3 linked regions of the Homo sapiens genome follow. The protein of the gene in region 2 interacts with the protein of the main gene of each other region in a pairwise test. Each region holds a gene or a part of one and is shown on either strand. Other genes may lie near its edges.

Region 1 (7,024 bases), on a different chromosome or scaffold from region 2:
TTCTGGATCTACCATCAAATCGGCCACCCCACCTCAGTCAGGCCACCTACCCTTTGCTGTAGGTTGTGGTTGAATTGTGTCCCCAAAATAGACATACTGAAGTCCTAACCCCAGTACCTATCACTGTGGCTATACTTGGAAATAGGGTCTTTGCAGGTAAAATCAAGTTAAGATGAGGTCATATTGGATTAGAGCGGGCCCTAAAGCTAACGGCTGATGTTATTAAAAGAAGAAGGAAATTTGGACATAGACGCAGAGATACAATCGGGAGAGTGCTGAGTGAGGATGGAGGCAGAGACTGGAGTGATGTGTCTACTAGCTAAGGTGAACCAAGTGTGGCCAGCAGCCACCAGAAGCTGGAAGAGGCAGGCAGCATTCTCCCCTAGCACCTTCAGAGGGAGCACGGCCCTGCCCACACCTTGATTTCGGACTTTTAGCTTCCAGAACTAAAAGGGAATAAATATCTGTTGCTTTAAGCCACCCATTTTGTGATACTTGTGACAACCGCCCTCAAAGTACGGCATTATGCAAGCTTGACGCCCAGCAGCTTCTAATCTTGCAATTTCCTTTTGAGGGAATCTTGAAAGAAAATCTATGTAAAGAGCCCAATACAGGAAAACAGCCTCCCACTCAATAAGTATCGGACACCCCCTACATGCCTTTCAAAGGCATTCTACTTCTATGGGGGAAGTTGAGGGCACGGTGACCTACAGATGCCACCTCTTTGTCCTTCCCCCAGTGCGAGGGAGCCGCCTCATCTCCACCCAGGTCCCGCCTGGTCATCTGCCCCTGCAGGGGTGCACCCCGGCTGAGAGGCCCCTCTGAAAGGTTCCCACTCTTGGGCTGCATCTCCGGACGAGGCCGCCACAAACAGCCAGTGGTTTGCATTGTGCAATCAGTCATAACTGGCAAAGGACTGGCGGAGGTTGCTACAGACACTCAAATCCAGCTGCGAGTGAGCTGGCTCACCATGTGCTCAGATGAACTTGCTGGACAAAGTCCTGACCTTCCCCGGCTGTGGGACACGTCTCTTCTTATTGTGACAAGCAGAGAGCCCCTCTTGGAGGAATGTCCTGGCCCCAGCCTATGGAGGGCCCTTGCCAAGCCATCCCTGGTCCCTCTATCCCCAAAGCCCCCAGACCAGCAGCCTATTGATTCCTGCAGTCCCAGAGAAGGATCCCTCATCTTTGCAGCCTCAGATCACCAGTCAGCACCCAATATATGTTCATAAACAGATAGATTAAATCATTAATTCTATAGTTTCTGATCGTGTGCCTTGCCTTTTTCAAGCCTAACTCAATGTTGCAGAAAACGTCTGAGAGTTTCTAAGAAATAACAAACACGAACCCCCACTGTTTTCCCTGTACCTTGAGGAGAGTGGTCTTTGTTGGGTCCAATTTTGAGTTGCACTCCACCTGCACAAGAGGGAGGAAATCTGTTAATTTTCTACGTGAAGCCAAAGCCAAAACATCTCCCCCTTCTCCGCCACTCTGCCACCGTCACCAGAAACTCCAGTATTTCTGCTGGCAAAGAAGAAAGTATGTGGAGTTATTGGGATTCAGCAGATGTGGCTTGAAATCCCAGCCTTGCCATTACCAGCTGTGACAACTTGGATAAGTGATTTAACTTCTTTGGGCCTCAGTTTCCTCATCAATAAAATGGAGCTAATATCTTTTTTCAAAAGGTTATTATGAAGATTAGCCGAAATGTAAACAGTACTGTAGAAATACCTGCTAAATAAATATCCTTGTTTAACCAGCAGCTGCCAGAGATTCTACAGGTTTAATATTCCCAGATCTAACAACTATTCTTCATGTAAAATCACACTGGTTTCTCTCTTCATTTTGTCAGTGAACCTCTTGAAAGGGGCATCTGGAATTGGGCAGAATACCCATATGTAACCCAGGATGTTCAAAATGCTTAAAGTAAAACTATCACCTCCCTTGATTTGAACAGTGTATCTCTATTGATGTATCCCATGATTATCTCCAGTCAGTCAGCCCGTAAGAAACTCATGGTTCACTAAGGCATGCCAGGTATTTACTACATGAACATTTGCAAATGTCACTCTGCAGATCACTGCACAAAGCATGGCAGTACTGCAGGACTCTGATCCATAGCCCCTAAGTCTTCCATCTCCCCAGCTGTGGGGTTGTTTGAAAGGCAGATTCCTCTCTTTGCTGCCACAAAGTTGCAGGTGGGAGTTAAGGGGTGAAAGGAGTCAGGAAGCTTTGCTAAGCCCTGCCTCCCAGTGCCTCTCTCCCCTGCCAGCTCATCAGGCACCAGTCAGTTTGGAAAGATCCAGCTGCTTCCCAAATAAGAGGTGAGTCTCTTGGCCAGGAAGCCAAGTGGCAAACATGCCCATATAAACAAGCCGATGGGACACAGACTGGCGGGTGAGGGGACCTGGGAGAGGAGACACTGCCAAGCAACCAGGGCTGGCAGCCACCAGGGAAAGAGACTGAGTGGCTGGGCCCTCTGCCCAAAGGCCAATATGGCATTTCAAAAAACATCACCTGCCCTGATGGGGCAGAGGAGAGGAGGGGCAGGCAGGGCCACTTCAACAAAGTCAACCAGACTTTGCCTGTTGAATTAAACACAGAAATCAGCTGTGATTTCTACATACCACGGCATCCACTGCAGGCGAGCTGTCCCCAACCACCAACAGAGCAGGGCACCTGGGGTCAGGGATAGAGCAGAGAATTAGCACAAGGTTCCTTTAAAGATTGTCCCACTCCCAGGCCTGCCAGGCTGGGGCCTGCATTCTACAAACAATGTCATTTTGGTTTCCCCAACACCCTTTGCTCTTTTACTTCATTCTCCTTTGATCTTAGGATAACATTGGTTACTAGTCATTCACAACTTAGTATGAATTTCAGCCAGGGAATTTCTGTGACTCAGTGCTTTTGTTTTAAAGCATCTTCTCCTCAAGGATGGTTAAGCAGGACTTAGCTGGCAATCAAGACCGAAACAAGAACAGCATGAAGGACAAAGGCAATGACGTGCCAGGTTCCCAAGTGTCACACAACGCGGTGCACTCAGCCACAAAAAGACACCATCATTACTGGTGGAAACCCAGTTAGTTCTGTCCATGACTGTCTTTTCCTCCTAGGTGTATGGAGCACTTTAAGGCTGGGTCCTGTGCTATCCATCCCTAGGCTTCATGGAGCAAAGCCTCACACAGTTATTGATGTAGTAGGTGCTTAATAAATGCTGTCCCAAGTACAATCAACCATCCTTCTCCAAGATCAAAGGCCTAGGTCATGGGGACACCCTAGAAACGGATGCCACCGGCACAGGGAGAAGTCCAAGTCAGGCTGGGTAATGCTCAGTCTCTGGGTGGAATATATCCAGGTCTCACTGACACAATGTCCTGCCACACTCAGAAAGAAGGCCCTGCCAGCAAGGCCACCTTTATAGTGGGCAGCCCCGACTGCAAGTGCTGGGGGAGAGAAAAGCCACTCACTGCAGGGTGACTGTGTGGGTTCCCGGCATTGGTCGCTCAATCTCCAGGTCGCGCCGGCTGCAGGAAACAAATGCATCATTAGCATGAGGACCCCTCCCCTGGAGAAATCTCCCACTCCCATCCAGCCAAGCCCAGGAGGTCCTGCCAGTGGCCATTCTGGTAAGCTACCCACATCCCCAACTTGAGAGAGGCCCTGTGGCTTTCAGGACTCCACACCCTCTTGGTGTCCACAGACCTGGTTAGAGGGACAGCACAACACATGCATTTCAAGCAGAGCCCCCTCATTTTGTCACAAATATTTGTGGGGCTTTTTTTTCCAGGAGTAGAAGTCAGATTCTCCACCATAGAGGGTCCCCGCCTTCCCTGTCCCCCTAGTCAGAGCCCCCACCTGACAGAGGGGCCACCTCCCAAATGCTCTCGCAGCCTCTTAGTTTAAGTCCCAGCCTCACCAACTCTGAGTCCTCTATAAAGCACCCAAATGATCTCTTTAAAACTCAGGCCTCATCTTTCCATTCCCTGTCTCAAACCCTGTGGTGGTTTCCCACTGCACTCGTGTGAGGCCCAGTGTGGGTCCAGCCCAGTGCCGACCACCTTTCCTGCACGCAGCCACCCACCCTCTCTGCTATCTTGCAGCTCCCAACATGAGAAGCTCTTTCCCAGCTCACAGCCTGGAGTTAGACAAGCAGGATCCAAATCATGCTCTGCCACTTTCTAGCTGTGTGGCCTTGGGGAGAACACAGGATCTCTTTGCGCCTTTGCTTCCTCAACAGGAAATGACAGTAATTCCAGGACCTTCACAGTGGGATTTGGAGAGGGGTCAGTTAATTACGGTGCTATCTACACGGGCAAGTTAACAGTGTGGAGTCTGCGGGCTGTGCTGGTTTCCTCTGTGTCTCCAGCGCCCAGCCGAATGCCTGACTCGCTCCAGTTCTCAGAAAGTGTTTACTAAGTGAACCGCACTGCCAGGTTTCGGTTTCTTCAGTCACATCCACAGTGAGGATGTTACCACTGAGATGAGGGCAGGATTGTAAAAGGAGGCAGATACTAAGCTCTGTTACAAATGTTAATTTCAAGAAGTCACTTTATTAACATTTGAGCAGAGATAAACACTATGAGGCTCATTTCTATCTCCTGTTCTGCGAGCGTGGCAGAGCGAGCTCAGCAGGTTGAGCGAGCTCCCTGGAAGATTACAGAGTCTCTGGCTGACACCAATGGCCCTGAGCTGTCTCCTCCCCTAGCTGAGCTCCAGATAAGCACCTAGTGCTGGTTGAGAGGGCCACGCCTTAGGCAAAGGCCATGTTCAGGTCCTCCTTATCCTTGGAATGACAAACTCCCAGAAGCCTGCCTGGATTATCCCCGGCCTCCAGGAGTGCTTTGCTGCTCTCTCACTTAGCTCTTCTTACATTTGGCCTTTCGTGAAGGTCAGCAGCGGGCACACATATTTACTCTCAACCCTCTGAGTGTGCGACTGCGTCCCTCTCACGTCTGCACCCCCAGTGGTCTGGAGTGTTTGTTCAGATCCCTGCAAGGCGAGCTGAATGCCAGGAACCAGCTTACAGGCCAGGTGTCCTTCCTGGGGACACCTGTCCTATTAATCTATTTGCTCAAACTCAGAGCCTGCCTCTTCCGCTCATTTTATACTCTCCCTCTCATCTGTCCCACATTTCGGATCTACAGAAGACACCTCATAAATAGCAATGATGTGGCTGAACTACATCCCAATACCTGTTGTAGGCATTGATGAACAGGTGCAGGTTGCCGGGGTTCATGTCATTCACAATGTGCTGGCGGTAGGTGTGGACCACTTCCACGTTACTCTGCATTTCTTCCTGCATTTAGAGAGGTGAGAAGATGGTCCTCATCGCACTGTGGCCCTGAGCTGGTCACTACTCTCTCCATTCTCCAGGTTATTTGGAGACAAAGTAAAGATAATAATGCCTAATCCACAAGACAGCGACGGACCTAAAAAAAAAACCTTTGGGAAAGCAACACGCCCAACCAGGTGCAGACAGGGGTTTCACTATCCGCTGGGAGCAGAAAAGACCCCCATCCTGGAAAGGCCACACCCCACCCTTCCAAACTCATTACTTTGGGAGTTTCAATTTGAAGTCAGACATCCTGGATCTAGAGCTTAGCTTCATCACTGTCCCTTTCGTAGGCAAATCTTTCAACCTCTCTGAGCCTCAGATCTCTTAAAAAAAAAAAAAAAAAAAAGGGAAGAGAGAGAATGTTGCCTACTTCACTAGGTTGTAGGACTTAATGGAGGTTGTGTTCTCACCTCTACTAACAGTAAAAATTGGAGGCAAATGTTAGTAATTGTTTTCCAATGGGAAGAGCTGAAAAGAAGTTTTTCATGCTTGAAAAGCAAAATCAACTCATGCCACAGGAAGTTACTGAAAAGAAGGGCAATTGCAACTCCCACCACGGCCAACCAGAGCCTTGGGGAAGTCGGCCTCAGCCTCCCCGTCTCTGGGTGCTTTTTGAATGTTATTTGCGACAAACAACTTGTTTGCTCTGTTTCTCATTTGTACGAGGGCAGACACTGTAGGTTTCACACAAGGGTCTGATATGACCAGTGGCAACCAGATGAGAAGTTGGAGTTGGGGGTCAAAGAAAGCCGGTGTCAAGCTTGAGCTGCATCAAACAGTCCAGGATCATTTAGGCAGCAAGGAGGTCAACTGGCTACTAAGAGCAAACTCTGGAAAAAATAGTCAGGAATCACGCTGGGATTTCAGATCAAAACCAACTATAGCGATCTGGGGGTACCCTCAGACACCATGGCCGGACCAACCAGTCTCCAAATAACTTGGGGTATAATCAGATCAGATGCTCAACGCTATGTCTGACATCCCTCCTCCAGTGAAACAGAGACAGTGGCTGTGAATTTTTCCCAATTCCTATCAGTTTCAGATTACACACTCAGGACAGGGAAAATGTGTCACACGCTGTGGAATGAATCGTAAAAGGGGAAAGAGGACTCTAGTGGGCTAAACTGTGGCCCTCAAAAGATATGTCCATGTCAAATCTCTTGAACTTGGGAATGCAAACTTGCTGGGAAAAAGGGTTTTTGCAGGTGTAATTAATTAAGGATCTTGAGATGAGATAATCCTGGATTACATGAGCCGGGATGAAATCCAATGGAAAGTATCCTTAAAAGAGGAAGGAGAGGGAGAAATAAAACAGACACAGAGGAGAAGACCATGTGAAGACAGAGGCAGAGAGTGGTGTGAGCAGCCACTAGCCAAGGAATGCCGACAGCGACCTGGAGCAGTAAGAAGCAAGGACGAATTTCCCCTGGAGCCTGTGGCGGAGGGGCGGCCCTGCCAGCGCTTGACATCGGAGTTCTAGACTCAGAGCTGTGAGAGAATACACTTTTGTTTTCCTTTTTCTCTGTTTTTGAGACAGAGTCTCCCTCTGTCTCACCCAGGCTGCAGTGCATGGCGCGATCTCGGCTCACTGCAGCCTCTGCCTCCCAGGTTCAAGTGATTCTCCTGTCTCAGCCTCCCGAGTAGCTGGGATTACAGGCGCGTGCCACCACATCCGGTTAATTTTGTATTT
Region 2 (7,689 bases):
ACACTCAAAGTCTAAGTTACTTCTTAGTTTGAGTTGAGTCCCAAAAAAGCACCACTCTTTTAAAAAAATAAAGCACTCTTCTGCCATGTGGGGACACAGTGAAAAGACAGCTGTGTGTGGACCAGGAAGCAGACCCTGACCAGACACCAAATCTACCTTGATCTTAGATTTCTCAGCTTCTAGCACTGTGAGAAAATAAATTTCTGTTTATAAGCCAAAAAAAAGTAAATTAAGAAATACAGTGTAAAGTAGTGTGCTTAATAGGCATCTCTGATACAATTGAGGGCTCACCTGCTAACTTTGCTTATAGCAATAGAACTGCCAAAATAACAGACCAGGAAGCTGGACAAGATTTGTTTGGAATTTTAAGATCTAGTTATTTATTTATACAGCATTTCTGGCGTTTGAGTCTCTTATAGCAGCACATCCGGTCTACTTAATAAGAAACACAGAGATTTAAGACATTAACCAATCAACAACTATATCAGAAATTCCTTCTAGCCACAATCATAAACTAAAAAATTTCTATATAAATATGCAAAATATGTGCTCCTTCCATCTTTCTTCATTCTTCTCCCATCCAAACGTAGTATCATGTTTGATTTTATTACTATATTTGTTGCCTAGGATAGAAAACCCCAAACACATTCAATAAAGCAAGGTATTTCTATAATAATAATACTAAAAATGCAAAATGCATTGTTATTTACTACAGCCACCTTTCTGTAACAATGCACTGTACATTTTGAAATTGCTAAAAGAGTAAATTTTAAACGCTTTTACCACAAAAAAAAAGTACATGAGATGATGGATTTGTTAGCTAATCATTTGACAATGCAGACATATGTCAAAACATCACACTGTACCCCACAAATATATATTCTAAGCATTTCCTATATAATAACTTTTGTGGATATGTTACTGAGCATGGGGCACTTAGCTTCCTTTTTCTAGTTCACATAATCTTAGTGGCACTAATAGGAGGTGGGTAATGTTTCATAAAGAAACAATTTACTTTGATTACAGTGGATAAAGATTCTGAACTATGAGCAGTCTATCCTCAACAAAGAATGGTAAAGACAAAAACTACCTTCCTTTGTCTATTATCATTTGCCATCTTCTTTTGCAATTATAAAGAGTTTTGTTTTCACTTGGATGCAGAAGTTGAAAGAGAGACTGAGCAGCCATTCTTAGATTTAAATCCTCCCCCACTCCTAGGGATATAATAATTAATATATAACCTTTGGCGTTTGGCGTTGGGGCTTTTGAGTACTTTTCTTTCTTTCTTTTTCTTTTTTCTTATATAGGGTCTCCACTTTTTCTCTTCCTTTCAGGATATTGACAATTTTTATTCAACGCATTCTCCAAACCTCTTTTCCCCAGCTCAGATCTTCTGTACCAGGGCAGTTAATTACGATTACCTTAGACATTCCACATAACCCTTAAGAGAAGCTTACGAAAAGGGGTTTCTTTAAATCAACCACCAAGAGCACACACACCAGTCCCACTCCCCTTCCCCTCCTCTGGGAGCACCCCCCACCCCAGGCCTTCTAGCTCTACATTGCCAAAACTACACAACTCCCACTCCACCATAGCAAAGCTTTCTCAGGAAAGAGCACCACACAGCATCCCCTTTCCTCTCCCTGGAAACAGCGTTAACCAGGCCGGCAGCCTCAAAGCGCGCTTCCTGGATCCTTTGACCAGGATGCGCCAGGGGCCTGGGCTCCCGCTGGACACTGGCGCGCTCAGACTTTGAATAGGGCGTCAGGCGAAGAATGGCCAAACCCAGGGCAATTTCCGGGGTGGGGGGGGGGGGGCGCTTAGACTGCTGGTAAACTGTACCACGTCCACTCACCACCACCCAAGCCCTCCAACCCACAGCCAGGCCCGCCGCACTTAGGACTTGAAGTTTCAATGCTCCCTGCAAGGTGGGGCCATCCGGGCAGCGGCGAAATACAGGTTTTGGGCGGGGGCAGCCACAGCACCCAACCCTCTTGCAAAGCTGTGCCTCCCGAATTAGGGACAAACTCCCTGGGATTTGTTTTCTGCGGGAGAAAAGGCGGAGGGATGTGGGGGGAGTAAGGTGTGGTGGCGATTCGTGGAGGGCAAGGGTAAGGGGCAGTTACAGCCACATCTCTGCCCTGGACAGAGCCGGGTCCAGGGGCCGCGGGCCTGCCCGCCGCTCGGTTGTCAGCATCTCCTGTAGCCGGCGCGCACACTGCGCGCAAACACGCCCCCCAAAATCCCCACAACCTGTCAAACGGGCCCTACAGCTCGGAGCCTCCTGGCAGGAGGGAGAAACTTGTACCCAGACTCGCCAGCAGCCAGAATGCTGCTGTTTGCCTATGAGAACAATTTTTAAAGCGGAAATAATCATGATAATGAAATAAAAGGATCAAAAGCATCTTGACTTTTTCTGAGCCTTTGGGAAAAATAAAATTGTTGTTTTCTACCAGCCCGCGAATATTCCCAGTCGCCCGTGGCGACGCGGGGGTGGGGTCGGCGCTCAAGGCAGAAAGCGCGAGGCAGGTGCCCAGGAGAGCCGCGCAGAAGGGGACTGACTGGGGGGCCCTGGTCCCCGACGCCATTTGAGGGGCAGCGGCGCCCGCCTTACCTGTGGATGCAGTTTCCATGGCAACGGGCGACTGCCGGGCGGGGCCCGAGCCGGCTTCCCGCGACGCCGCTTCCCGGGCCCTGGCGCCCAACCCCGGGCTGGGCTCCCCAGCCTGCGGCGCCGGCGTGGCCCCTTTCGGCGTCACCGCTTCGTTCTCCCCCTCCCCCCGGTGCCTGAGCCACTGGGACCCGGGGCCGGCCAGCGGCAGCAGCTCGTCCTGCGGATCCCCCGGCGCGGCCATGGCTGGCGGTCCCCCGGCGCGGCGACGGCGGCTTGGCTGGGCAGAGGCTCGGTGGCTGCGCGGGCGCTCCCTGCTGCTGTCCCCGGAGGGACTCGGCGCTCAGGGAAGCTGCGGTGTCTCAGCGTCGCCGCCGCCTCTGCTGCAACTCCGCCGAGCCGCTGCCTGCCGCTCTTCCCGCTTCAGCTCCTCCTTCTCCCCCCTCCTCTTCCTCCGGCCCCGCCGCGGCCGCTGCCTGCGCTCCTCCTCCTACTCCACTCGCTGCTGCCGCCGCTGCTTCGCTATTCCCAATCCTGTTATTACGCAGGTGAAAATGGCCTGCTTGGTCCGGGTCCTCCTGGGCACGTCAGCCCCCAACCTGCAAATGGCAGGCCCCGGTTAGGGGATGTGCCAAATCCACTCGAATCTTCCTCTCGTTTGGGGAGGAAAAAAAAGGAAGAACCAGCAAGTAGCAGCAGCCACCAGCAGCGTCGCCTTCCCAACTGAGAAAGTTAAGCCCCGACTGGTGTCCTGGGTCCCGAGGCAAAGAGGGAAAGCTAGAGAACTCAGGGCCACAGTTCTGAGAGTGACCAGTATGAGTTGTGGAGGGGACACAGGTCTGAACGGGGAAGGGGTGGAGATGGGTTCTGATGGCAGATGGAGACCAGGGAAGCTGCAACCCCGCGGTTAAATCCTGCGTTTCCAGAATGGGCCTGAAAATAGTGGAGTAAAGAAATGAGTTATCAGGACAGCCTCCAAAAAAAGCTTAACAGATCTCACCCTGACCAGCCCTGAGGGCAAACAGGGTGTCAATAGGCAAGGACAAAAGCTGTACATTTGCTTTCAGAAACACTGAGCCAAGGCCATCCTAATCATAAGCTGTCTGTGCAGTCCGTTGTATTTCAGAATTTGGACATTCCATGAAGCTTGCATCTTTTTCTTTACAGTTCACTGTGATAAAATGGAAGATAGTCAGCAAATAAACCCAAACTCAGAGGAGGAAAGTGACTTGCCTTATCATATGTTGTGCCCATACGAAGACCCATCTTTTCAAATGTCTTGTGTTTTATTGGTTCCCAAGTTGTTTATATAATAAAATAATGTGCCTTTAAAAACTAAGATTCACCACAACACACAGGGTGAAGGAATAGGTTTTTCTGCTGTTTCTTCTCTAGGAAAGGTGGGCGCAGACGGTACCGCACACACTGTGAGACTGTGGGACTCTTGGCCACCATGCGCATCTTGAGGATTTCATACCTGTCCATTGGTATATTCAAAGGCCAACTTCAGGACCATTCAGGTGCTCCTCAATAATGCTAAAATGAAAAAGCCCAGAGTCTGCCTAATCTTTTGTTCTGCTAGTGCACTAATGTTCAAAAGATGACAATAAATTAGAGAAAAATCATTCACTAAACAATAAATATGGCCTCCTGAAGCCAGATATCCCTGGAAATCTGATGGTCACCAAAATTTTACATTTTTGACATACTCAAAATTATGTCTCATGATGGAAATATTCACTATCTAGATTGTGGTTATAGCTTCACAGGTGCAAACATATGTCAAAACTTATTGTTTACTGTAAATATGAACAATTTAATGTGTTGTCAGTTATAACTCAATAAATCTATAAAAATAATCTCATCCAAAAACAACAAAATAATTGGTTATCATGAATCATAATGATTTTTAAACATCTTTCCATGGGAAAACAAGAGTGTATTTAAAAAACCGTTAAGTTGAAAAGCTTATTCCACTGCTGTATTTCCATGGAGCTTAATCCTGTCTTGTAATTAGAGGGCACTTGTAAGTTTTTTCAAATCTATTACTTAGTATTCCCTAAAGCATCAGAAATACTAGATGGGAATTTCTCATGGTTTTATTACTGATAACAAGACAAGAACATAGACAATTCTAATGATATAACCTTAAAGTGGTTATTGATGAATACTAATATTTGAGAATTGCTATGCAAAGGAGTTACATACAAAATAATATGAAGTATATTCTTTTGTTTCTCTGAGAAACATGAATGAAAGTCATCATTAAAAAACTGGGAGACCTAAGCAAGCCTCTGTGTTTCCTTATGATTAATAGATAGGAAGTTTGGGGATATGATTCTAATTATTTGTCAATTTCTTTCATACTAATCAATACTCTCATTGAGAATGTGTGAAGGAAATAGCCAGTTAAATCTATTTAGAGTGTAGTTGTTAAAGGAAATTGAACATTATTGACAGTTCCATTTTGATAAAGTATTCTATTTTACACTGCTGAAAAGAGATGAGCACAAGATTTCAGTGTTAGCAATTTTCATTACTAACTTTCCTTATTAGACTCCACCTTTGGATGTATAAAAATTATCTATTTGGGGGAAGAAATTTTCAGGTTTATGCTATGACTTGAAATGATTCATGTTTATTAATATTATTTATTTTGCACCGCTCTGAACTGACAAAGCTTGACTAATTTGAAGATTTATGGGCAAAACACACAGTCGGCAATGGGATTCTGGGGCTTACATAGTTGCTCTAAGTTACGAATTACTCTAAAATGCTTTTCAGACACAGAGAAAATAGGATTGTCACTTTTAAAAGGTTCTTAGCAAGAAGAGTTGAGACAAAAGAACTGTCACGTTTTGTTTTCAGCTTTTGTTTTTTGGAAAAGAAGTTTTGTTCATCATTTGAAAAGAAGAAATGAGGAGCATTTATTTAGCACTAGCTTCTTAACTTAGTCCAAACCATATATCATGGGGAAACACGGTGTGGGGACATGCAGGAAGAGCGCCACAAGTAACAAGCTTTAACCAAGATGAAATTCTTTCCAGCCTCAATATTAAAGTTACCTAACATCTCTACAACCCAGGTTCCTCAACTGTAACCTGGAGATTTTTTTTAAAATTTTTGTGGGTGGGTACATAGTAGGTGTATATATTTATGGGGTATATGAGATATTTTAATACAGGCATACAATGAATAATAATCATATCATGGTAAATAAGGTATCCATCACCTCAAGCTTTTATCCTTTCTTTGTGTTACAAACAATCCGATTATAATCTTTTTGTTGTTTTGAAATATAAAATAAATTATTGTTGACTGTAGGTGCCCCATTGTGCCAGTGAATACTAGATCTTATTCACTCGTATCTAACTATATTTTTATATCTACCATTAACTGTCCCACCTCCATGCCCCTCAGGCCCCTGCCAGCCTCCCAGCACTACACTTCTTGGCCTCTGGGAAACCGTTCTACTCTCTATCTCCATGAATTCAACTGTTTTAATTTTAATTTACCACACATAAGTGAGAACATAAGAAGTTTGTCTTTCTGTGCTTGGCTTATATCACTTAACAGATGTCCTCCAGTTCCATCCATGTTGTGCAAATGACAGGATCTCATTCTTTTTTATGACTGAATAATAGTCCATTGTGTATATGTACCACATTTTCTTTATCCATTTGTCTCTTGATGAACACATGGGTTGCTTCCAAATTTTGGCTAGTGTGAATAATATAGTGCTGTGATAAACGTTGGAGTGCAGATATCTCTTCAATATACTTTTGCTTTCTTTTGGGTATATACCCAACAAACAAACAAAAACAAGAAAACATTGAAACACTGGGGAAACTCTCCAGGATATTGGTTTGGGCAAGCATTTCTAGAGTAATGCCCCATAAGCACAGGCAACCAAAGCAAAAATGGACAAATGGGATCACATCAAGTTAAAAATCTTCTGCACAGCAAAAGAAACAACTAAGTGAAGAGACAACCCACAGAATAAGAGAATAAAATTGCAAATTATCCATCTGACAAGGGATTAATAACCATAATATATAAAAAACTGGGATTGCTGGATCATATGGTAGCTCTAGTTTTTTTAATTGGAGTCAGATGACATCTCATTGTAGTTCTGATTTGCATTTCTCTAATGATCAATGATATTGAGCACCTTTTCATATGTCTGTTTGCTATTTATTTGTATGTCTTCTTTTGAGTAATGTCTATTTAGATATTTTGCCCATTTTTAATTGGATCATTATATTTTTTCTTAATAGAGCTATTTGAGCTCGTTATATATTATGGTTATTAATCCCTTGTCAGATGGATAATTTGCAATTTTTTTCTCTTATTCTGTGGGTTGTCTCTTCACTTAGTTGTTTCTTTTGCTGTGCAGAAGATTTTTAACTTGATGTGATCCCATTTGTCCATTTTTGCTTTGGTTGCCTGTGCTTATGGGGTATTACTCTAGAAATCTTTGCCCAGACCAATATCCTTGAGACTTTCCCCAATGTTTCAATGTTTTCTTGTTTTTGTTTGTTTGTTTGTTTGAGACTGAGTCTTGGTCTGTCACCCAGGGTGGAGTGCAGTGGCGTGATCTTGGCTCACTGCAACCTCCACCTCCCAGGCTCAAGCAAATCTCTTACCTCTGCCTCTCGAGTAGCTGGGATTACAGGTGCCTGCCACCATGCCTGGCTAATTTTTGTGTTTTTAGTAGAGACGAGGTTTCACTATGTTGGCCAGGCTGGTCTTGAACTCCTGACCTCAAGTGATCCGCCCATCTCCGCCTCCCAAAGTGCTGGGATTACAGGTATGAGCCACCACATCTATTTGGCCCCCAGTGTTTTCTTTTAATGGTTTCCTAGCTTGAGGTCTTCAGTATAAGTCTTTCATCTATTTTGATTTGATTTTTGTATACAACAAGAGTTAGGGGTCTAGTTTCATTCTTTTGCATATGAATGTAATGTTGTCCCAGAACTATTTTTATTAAAGAGACTGTCCTTTCCCCAGTGTGTGTTCTTGGCACCTTTTTCAAAAATGAATTCACTGCAGATTAATGGATTTGTTTCTGGCTTCTC
Region 3 (6,869 bases), on a different chromosome or scaffold from region 2:
GAAGAAACTATAATTAGGGCTCTAGCTCTCATATAACGAAGTAAAATACTGGGTGAATTCAGGGTAATATGTGAAAAAATTAAGAAAAAAATACTAAGAGGAAGCAGAGACTAACATATATAATAATTTGGAGGAATAAGGAAGATATAAAAATTATAACAGAGTTAGAAAATGTAAAAGAAACGGAAAGACCTATCTACCTAAAACACACATGCACACACACTTTTCTCCATGTCAAATATATGTACAAAGTTAAAAGACAAAAAACAGACTGGGGAAAAGAATGCTACATGTGACAGAAAACAACCTTTATATCAGAAAGATGAATTCAGCAACAGATTGCAGCACAGGCAAAGGATTATGAGTATGTAATTTACATCTAAATGTAACTAGCATATAAACATATTTTAAAAGTGCTCAATGTAACTTTAAAGGAATGAAAATAGAAACAGAAAACAGTGAAATGCCTGCTACTTAGTGTTTGTAAGGCAAAATGGGGCCATCATACAATGTTACCAGGACTGTGAATATACATAACATTTCCATGGGGCCAATATGTATCAAAGTTTAAAATGTGCACCACTTCTGGCCCAATAATTCCTCTTTCGGAAATATAAATGAGATCATTTCTCAAAGATGTATGCATATAAATTCATCACAGTGTTCTTTGTAATCTAGATAAATTGGAAACAACCTAAACATCCATCAGTAATAATAAATAAATCTTGGTACCTGGTAAACTAAAATATCATGCATCTATTACAAATGATGTAGAGATCATACAGATATTGACATGCAAAAAACGGTCAAGACATTTTACAGGACAGTTCCATGTGAACAGGGGCCTTGTATGTTTGTTCTTCACTCTTCCAGCAACTAGAACAGTGCCTTGCACAAAACGGCTTTTCAATAAACATTTATTAAACAGATGAACTTTAAAGCAGGTTACAGAACAATAATCATAATATAGTCCTTTTCTCTCTTCCCTCTTCCCCTCCCTCCTTCTCTCTCTCTCACACACACACACAGATTGGAAGGATAGTCACAAAAGGTTAACAAGGTAATGTAGTTTTGGTGTGTGCATATTTTAATTTTCTCCATCTCTCTCTATTGCATAAATTCCTTACACAGTAAGCATTTTTTATTTTTATGACGGTAAAAAGTAACAATTTTTTTAAAGAAAAAGAACTCACATATTTTAAATGAACTCCAGAATGTGCTGTGACTAAGCTCACCAACTCCAAAAACTAAAGTCAACAATATCCAAGTGGCATGTTTTCTTTCACTTTCAAAGAAATATCAGTATAACCTGTACCAGCATCATCTTTCTCAGTACCAGGAAATGCCACACTATACTAATAAAATACAGTGTTTCCAAAAGCAAAGGCACACTTTTTCCGCAGTAAAAAGGAAAAAAAAAAAACCAAAAAACTAAAAGTAACTAATTTCTTAAAGTCTCTTCCACTAACATACACTCTATTCTAGTTCATGGTAACGATTACTATATACAATTGCTCTTTTCTCCCCCCAGACTAAAAATCCAAGTGAATCGATATCAGTAATGTGCTCTATATAATTTTTTCATTTCTTTACAGAGGCAGATTTCACCTTAAACAGTGGATATACCAAACTAGCCACATAACCCATGTCTCTATTCACGCCATCACCCAGTTCTATTTTACTTACACGCTTCGTCACAATCTCATAACCTTATTTAGATTTTATCTGCTCCTTCCTTCTAGAATGTAAGACTCATGAGGACAGGAATTCTGTCCTGCTCACCACCATGTCCCCTGGCCAATAACAGTGAATGGTATCTAGTAGGCCTCAAGAAGTATTTGTTAAACAAAAATGAAAAGATGTGGCCGGCACGGGGAGAGTACAAATCTACATAAAACAATAAAACGAGGAACTGAAAAAAGGAAAGAAAACCACGCTGAGATGTACAAGCTGACAGGACTCAAAGCTATCATGCCAGCTCGGAGGTTTGGTGGACATTTTTCAGGGTGGACAGGTGCTTCACACCTATCTAAGCGCATAGAGCCCTTCCAGGAAGAAGAAAATCCACAGAGAGGTGTCCAGATAGCTGTGAGCAGCTCCCAGAAAAGTGGACACAATCACCACCCTAACAGAAACGTGGCCCAGGTCGGGAGAAAAAAACAATACACCATACATCTCGGCCCAGATGAAAAATTACACGAATCCCCAGCACAATCAAACCAAGCCACCACCTTCAGCCTGACACGTAAGAGCAGTCTCCTTTAGCCTGGCTGGGCAGTCGCCTGCAACCCAGCAAACCCTTCCCACGCCCAACACTTTTCCCTCGCAAAGACCACCGCCACCGCCGGTCCGAGGGGCGAGGGAACGGGGGGAACAGCCTGACGATCAGCTTTCTCCACCCCCGCCCGAGCCCAGTCCCCTTCAAAGCGCAAACGTTTCCCATTCTCGCCTGTCTCCGAGGCCCGGACCCCTGCCCCGAGCCCCTCCTGCGGTCCCTCACTCACGTGTAGATGATAGCCATGAAATGCATCAGCCACAGCACCAAGAAGAGGACGAACCCGAAGACGGCCATTCCCTCCAAGGCCAGGTCCAGCAGCGCCATCCCCCGGCCCGCCGGACCGGCCCGGCCCGCTGCGGCCGCCAACACGGACAACGCTCCCGCAGGAGGAGGACAGGGTGGGCGCCCGGTGCGGGGGCGCGGGAGGCGAGAGGAAGGTGGGGAGAGGAAAGGGCGGAGGGGGGTGGGGACGGAAGGGGCGGGCAGGGCCTGCGCGCCCCCGCCCGCGCGCTCTCGCCTGCGCGCTGTCTTCGGCGCGCTCGCGGGCGGCTGCGGGTGCTGCGGTCTCCCGGCTCTGGTCGGGGCGACCGCGGTCCCGCGCTCCGGTTCGCCTCTCCCGAGCCTCGCGGCCGCCCACCAGACCCTGCGCGCGGGCACCTCCGCCGCCTCTCCGTCTCGCCGCCGGGCTCCCGGCCGAGCAGCTCCACCGCCGCAGCTCCGCGCACTAATCAAAACCGGCGGCTCGCGCCCCACTCCTCGGCGCGTCCCGCCCCCGGAACCGCGGCGCCCGCCTCTCCCAGGGGCGGTGCCCCCATCGGTCCACGCCCACCCTGTCGCCCGCGCGCCCGCTGCGGCGCCGGCGAGAGCGCGCCGGGGAGATCGTGTCCTGCTGCCCGCAGGACGCAGGCCGGGCTTCCTCCGGCTCCTCGCTCCCGCTGCCGCCCACCTAGGCGGAAAGCGCTGCAGCCCTGGGCCGGGCTCCCTCGGTGTCGGTGGCAGCTCGGGACCCTGTGCCTGGCTGGAGGCTGCTCTCTCTCCGTCTGGCCCTGCTGTTCCTGGGTGCCCCAGAAAAAGACACGGGTTCCGGGCAGCTGCCGGAGCTTGTCTAGAAATCCAACTTCCAACGCCGCGTCTGCAGCCTCCCCGCCGGGCACTGCTACTGCTCGGAGCAGCCAGGCCCTCCAGGCCACGTTCCTGGGCGCAAGGGATGCCCATTGCCTTCCCTCTTACTGCTTTTAATGCTGTGGGATCTTGGATCAAAAGGGACCGGAGAGTAAAATAATCTCCATGCGCCTCACAGATCTCTAAGCGCCTTAGCGACCGTGTGTATTATAAAAAGAAATTCTCAAATTCAGAATTAAAGAATCAGTTGATATTGAAATTCCCTAAGACTGCCATCCAATACGGTAGCCGCATGTGGCTAAGTGAGGGTTGGAAAGGCAGCTTGCCACTCTGTGGAGTAAACAGTACACCAGATGTGGAAGACCATCTCGTTAGTAAATTTTATATTGATTGCATGTTGAAAAGGTAATATTTTGGACATACTACATTAAATTAGGTAAATTATTAAGTTAATTTCTCTTTTTAAATACTTTGGCTAGCTACTAGAAAATTTTAATTGTACGTGTGGACAGCACAGCTCTAAAATGGGAAGAAATGTCACTTTGGGTAGTAAGGTAACTAAGTATTTGTCCTAATTTTAAGTCATCCCAAGAAGATGCTAGTACTCAATGTTTGTGTTTCTTCAATCTAGATGAGTTTATACTATTTCTGCATTGTTTTATGTTTATTGTTGCAAGTGATTTCCTTTTAAATAATCCATGACCTCCCTTGAGATATTTCAGAATTGAATTCAATTTTGAAAAGAAGTTGTGGCTGGGCGCGGTGGCTCACACCTGTAGTCCCAGCACTTTGGGAGGCGGAGGCAGGTGGAGCATGAGGTCAGGAGTTCAAGACCGGCCTGGCCTAGATGGTGAAACCCCGTCTCTACTAAAAATACAAAGAATTAGCCGGGCGTGGTGGCAGGCGCCTGTAATCCCAGCTACTCCGGAGGCTGAGGCAGAGAATTGCTTAAACCTGGAGGGGCGGAGGTTGCAGTGAGCCGAGATCGCGCCACTGCACTCCAGCCTGGGCGACAGAGCGAGACTCTGTCTCGAAAAAAAATAGATGAATTTAAAAAAAAGAAAAGAAGTTGTTTATTATTGCTGTTTATGGTAGTTAATAGTCACTGAATGATCTACCTCAATCTGCAATTAAATGACAAACTACAACTAGAAGAGTTAATGTCCGAACCATTCCTCGATTAACATCCTTGGCTCCACTGGTGCAGAATCAGTGGGAAAGAACAATGCTTCAAAATCAAATTCCCACTGTTGAGAGTTACTGGCTGATAAAAATAGCAGGATGGAGGGCCAGGCGCAGTGGCTCATGCCTGTAATCCCAGCAGTTTGGGAGACTCAGGTAGGAGGATTGCTTGAGGCCAGGAGTTTGAGACCAGCCTGGGCAACATGATGAAACCCTGTCTCTACAAAAAAAAAAAAAAAAAAAAATTAGCCAGGCATGGTTATGGCACCTATAGTCCCAGCTACCGGGAAGGCTGAGGTGGTAGGATCACCTGATCCTGGGAAGTGGCGGCTGCAGTGAGCTGTGATCGCGCCACTTAACTCCAGCCTGGGTGACAGTGAGTCCCTGTCTTAAAAAAAAGTGGAATAGAATTCTAACATCGAAATAACGTTCCAAACAAAAATTTACGATTGTAGTTAATTCTAAGGCACACTTCAAAAAAACACTTTAACAAATTTTAATTTCTCTGAAATGGGAATGCATCTCACAGTCAATGCCATCTTAGAGTTAATTGGCGTTTTTTCTTTTTTTTTTTTTTTTTTTTGAGGTGGAGTCTCGCTCTGTCGCCAAGGCTGGAGTGCAGTGGCGTGATCTAGGCTCACAGGAACCTCCGCCTCCTGAGTTCAAGCAATTCTCCTGTCTCACCCTCCCCAGTAGCTGGGACTACATTTGCACACCACCACACCCGGCTAATTTTTGTGTTTTTAGTAGAGACGGGGTTTCACCATATTGTTCAGGCTAGTCTCGAACTCCTGACCTCGTGATCCACCTGCCTCGGCCTCCCAAAGTGCTGGGATTACAGGCGTGAGTCACCGTGCCCAGCCAATGGCTTGTGGTTTTCTTTTACTCAAATATAAAATAATAGTGCATCTTAGTGATATATAAAATAATGCTGCATCTTATCATTAAATGCCCTCTTAGATTTGAGGAACACCAATTGCTTAATTTAAGCATTGTTTTATATTCTGCATTTTTTCAAAAATGTTTTCTGGAACCTTACAACAAAGGATTTTATACAGTATGACCAATAACACAAAAAAAGAGGCCAAAGAAATGTGAAAGTAGATATTCTTAAGAGTTAACAAATTTGCTAAATTGAGTATAATCAGTAGATTAAAGATCAGTTATATTATACTTGACCCTAGTTAAACTATGTTTACCCAAACTTCGTTTTAAAACAGCTTTAGAAAAGGGAAGAGTATGAAGACAGTATAAAGATCTGTGGTTGCCATGGAGCAGAGGAAAGAGGGACAAATAGATGACAGGATTTTTAGGGCTGTGAGTGAAACTATTCTGTATGATCCTATAATAGTGTATACATGTCATATATTTGGCAAACCCCGTAGAAAATACACCACCAAGAGTGAACCCTAATGTAAGCTATGGACTTTAGGTGATAATGGTGTGTTAATGTAGGTCCATCAGTTGTAACGAATATGGTGCTCTGGTGCAAGATGTTAATAGTGGAGGAGGCTGGTGGAGGGAATGGCAGTGGGTATATGGGAACCTTCTGTACTTTCTGCTCAGTTTTGCTGTGAACCTAAAACTACTCTAAAAAGTAAATTCTTAAAAAAAATTAGTGAGTGTTCCACTAAAGGTGTTCTACTTATATATGTATACAAATATGTGTATAACATTGGAAATGCTATAAATGTCTGAATAAGATATACCAGTTTGCGGCTGGGCGCGGTGGCTCAGGCCTGTAATTGCAGCACTGTGGGAGGCCAAGGTGGGAGGATCTCAAGCCAGCCTGGGCAACATGGCGAAACCCTGTTTCTACAAAAAATAGAAAAATTAGCTGGGCGTGGTGGCAGGCAACGTGGTAAAACCCTGTTTCTACAAAAAATACAAAATCTAGCCAGGCATGGTGGTGGGTACCTGTAATTCCAGCTACTTGGGAGGCTGAGGCAGGAGAATCACTTGAACCTGGTAGGCAGAGGTTGCAGTGAGCCAAGATCATGCCACTGCACTCCAGCTTGGGTGCCAGAGCGAGACTCTGACTTAAAAAAAAAAAAATTACCAGTTTGCCATCAGATCCCAGGATTTAGCACCTTGTGGGCACTTAAATATTTGTTGACTGAATGAATAGATAAAATGTTTATTTATCCATTGACAGAAGTCACTGGAAAAATTTCAGTGACTTCTGAAATTTTCTGGAAAAACTTTCTGGAAAAATTTCTCAGCTTTCTCCTTTGTCTGTAAAGATTTTTAAATGGTTTTTCGTTGTGAGAAAAATACACATTAACTT

The links. Proteins that work in one complex are often made in the same cells at the same time.
Region 1: the proteins of RTN1 (region 2) and NDRG1 interact in a two-hybrid assay, tested with the Homo sapiens proteins (one study listed by BioGRID).
Region 3: the proteins of RTN1 (region 2) and UGCG interact in a two-hybrid assay, tested with the Homo sapiens proteins (2 studies listed by BioGRID and IntAct).

What each region holds. Positions count from the first base shown.
Region 1 is NC_000008.11:133,245,249-133,252,272, forward strand, and holds part of NDRG1 (protein NDRG1), read right to left. Parts: intron 5,296-7,024; coding exon 5,192-5,295; intron 3,524-5,191; coding exon 3,467-3,523; intron 2,679-3,466; coding exon 2,627-2,678; intron 1,416-2,626; coding exon 1,368-1,415; intron 1-1,367. UniProt on the Homo sapiens protein: Stress-responsive protein involved in hormone responses, cell growth, and differentiation. Acts as a tumor suppressor in many cell types. Necessary but not sufficient for p53/TP53-mediated caspase activation and apoptosis.
Region 2 is NC_000014.9:59,867,776-59,875,464, forward strand, and holds the start of RTN1 (reticulon-1), read right to left. Parts: upstream 3,002-7,689; 5' UTR 2,856-3,001; coding exon 2,615-2,855; intron 1-2,614. UniProt on the Homo sapiens protein: Inhibits amyloid precursor protein processing, probably by blocking BACE1 activity.
Region 3 is NC_000009.12:111,892,949-111,899,817, reverse strand, and holds the start of UGCG (ceramide glucosyltransferase), read right to left. Parts: upstream 3,005-6,869; 5' UTR 2,603-3,004; coding exon 2,505-2,602; intron 1-2,504. UniProt on the Homo sapiens protein: Participates in the initial step of the glucosylceramide-based glycosphingolipid/GSL synthetic pathway at the cytosolic surface of the Golgi.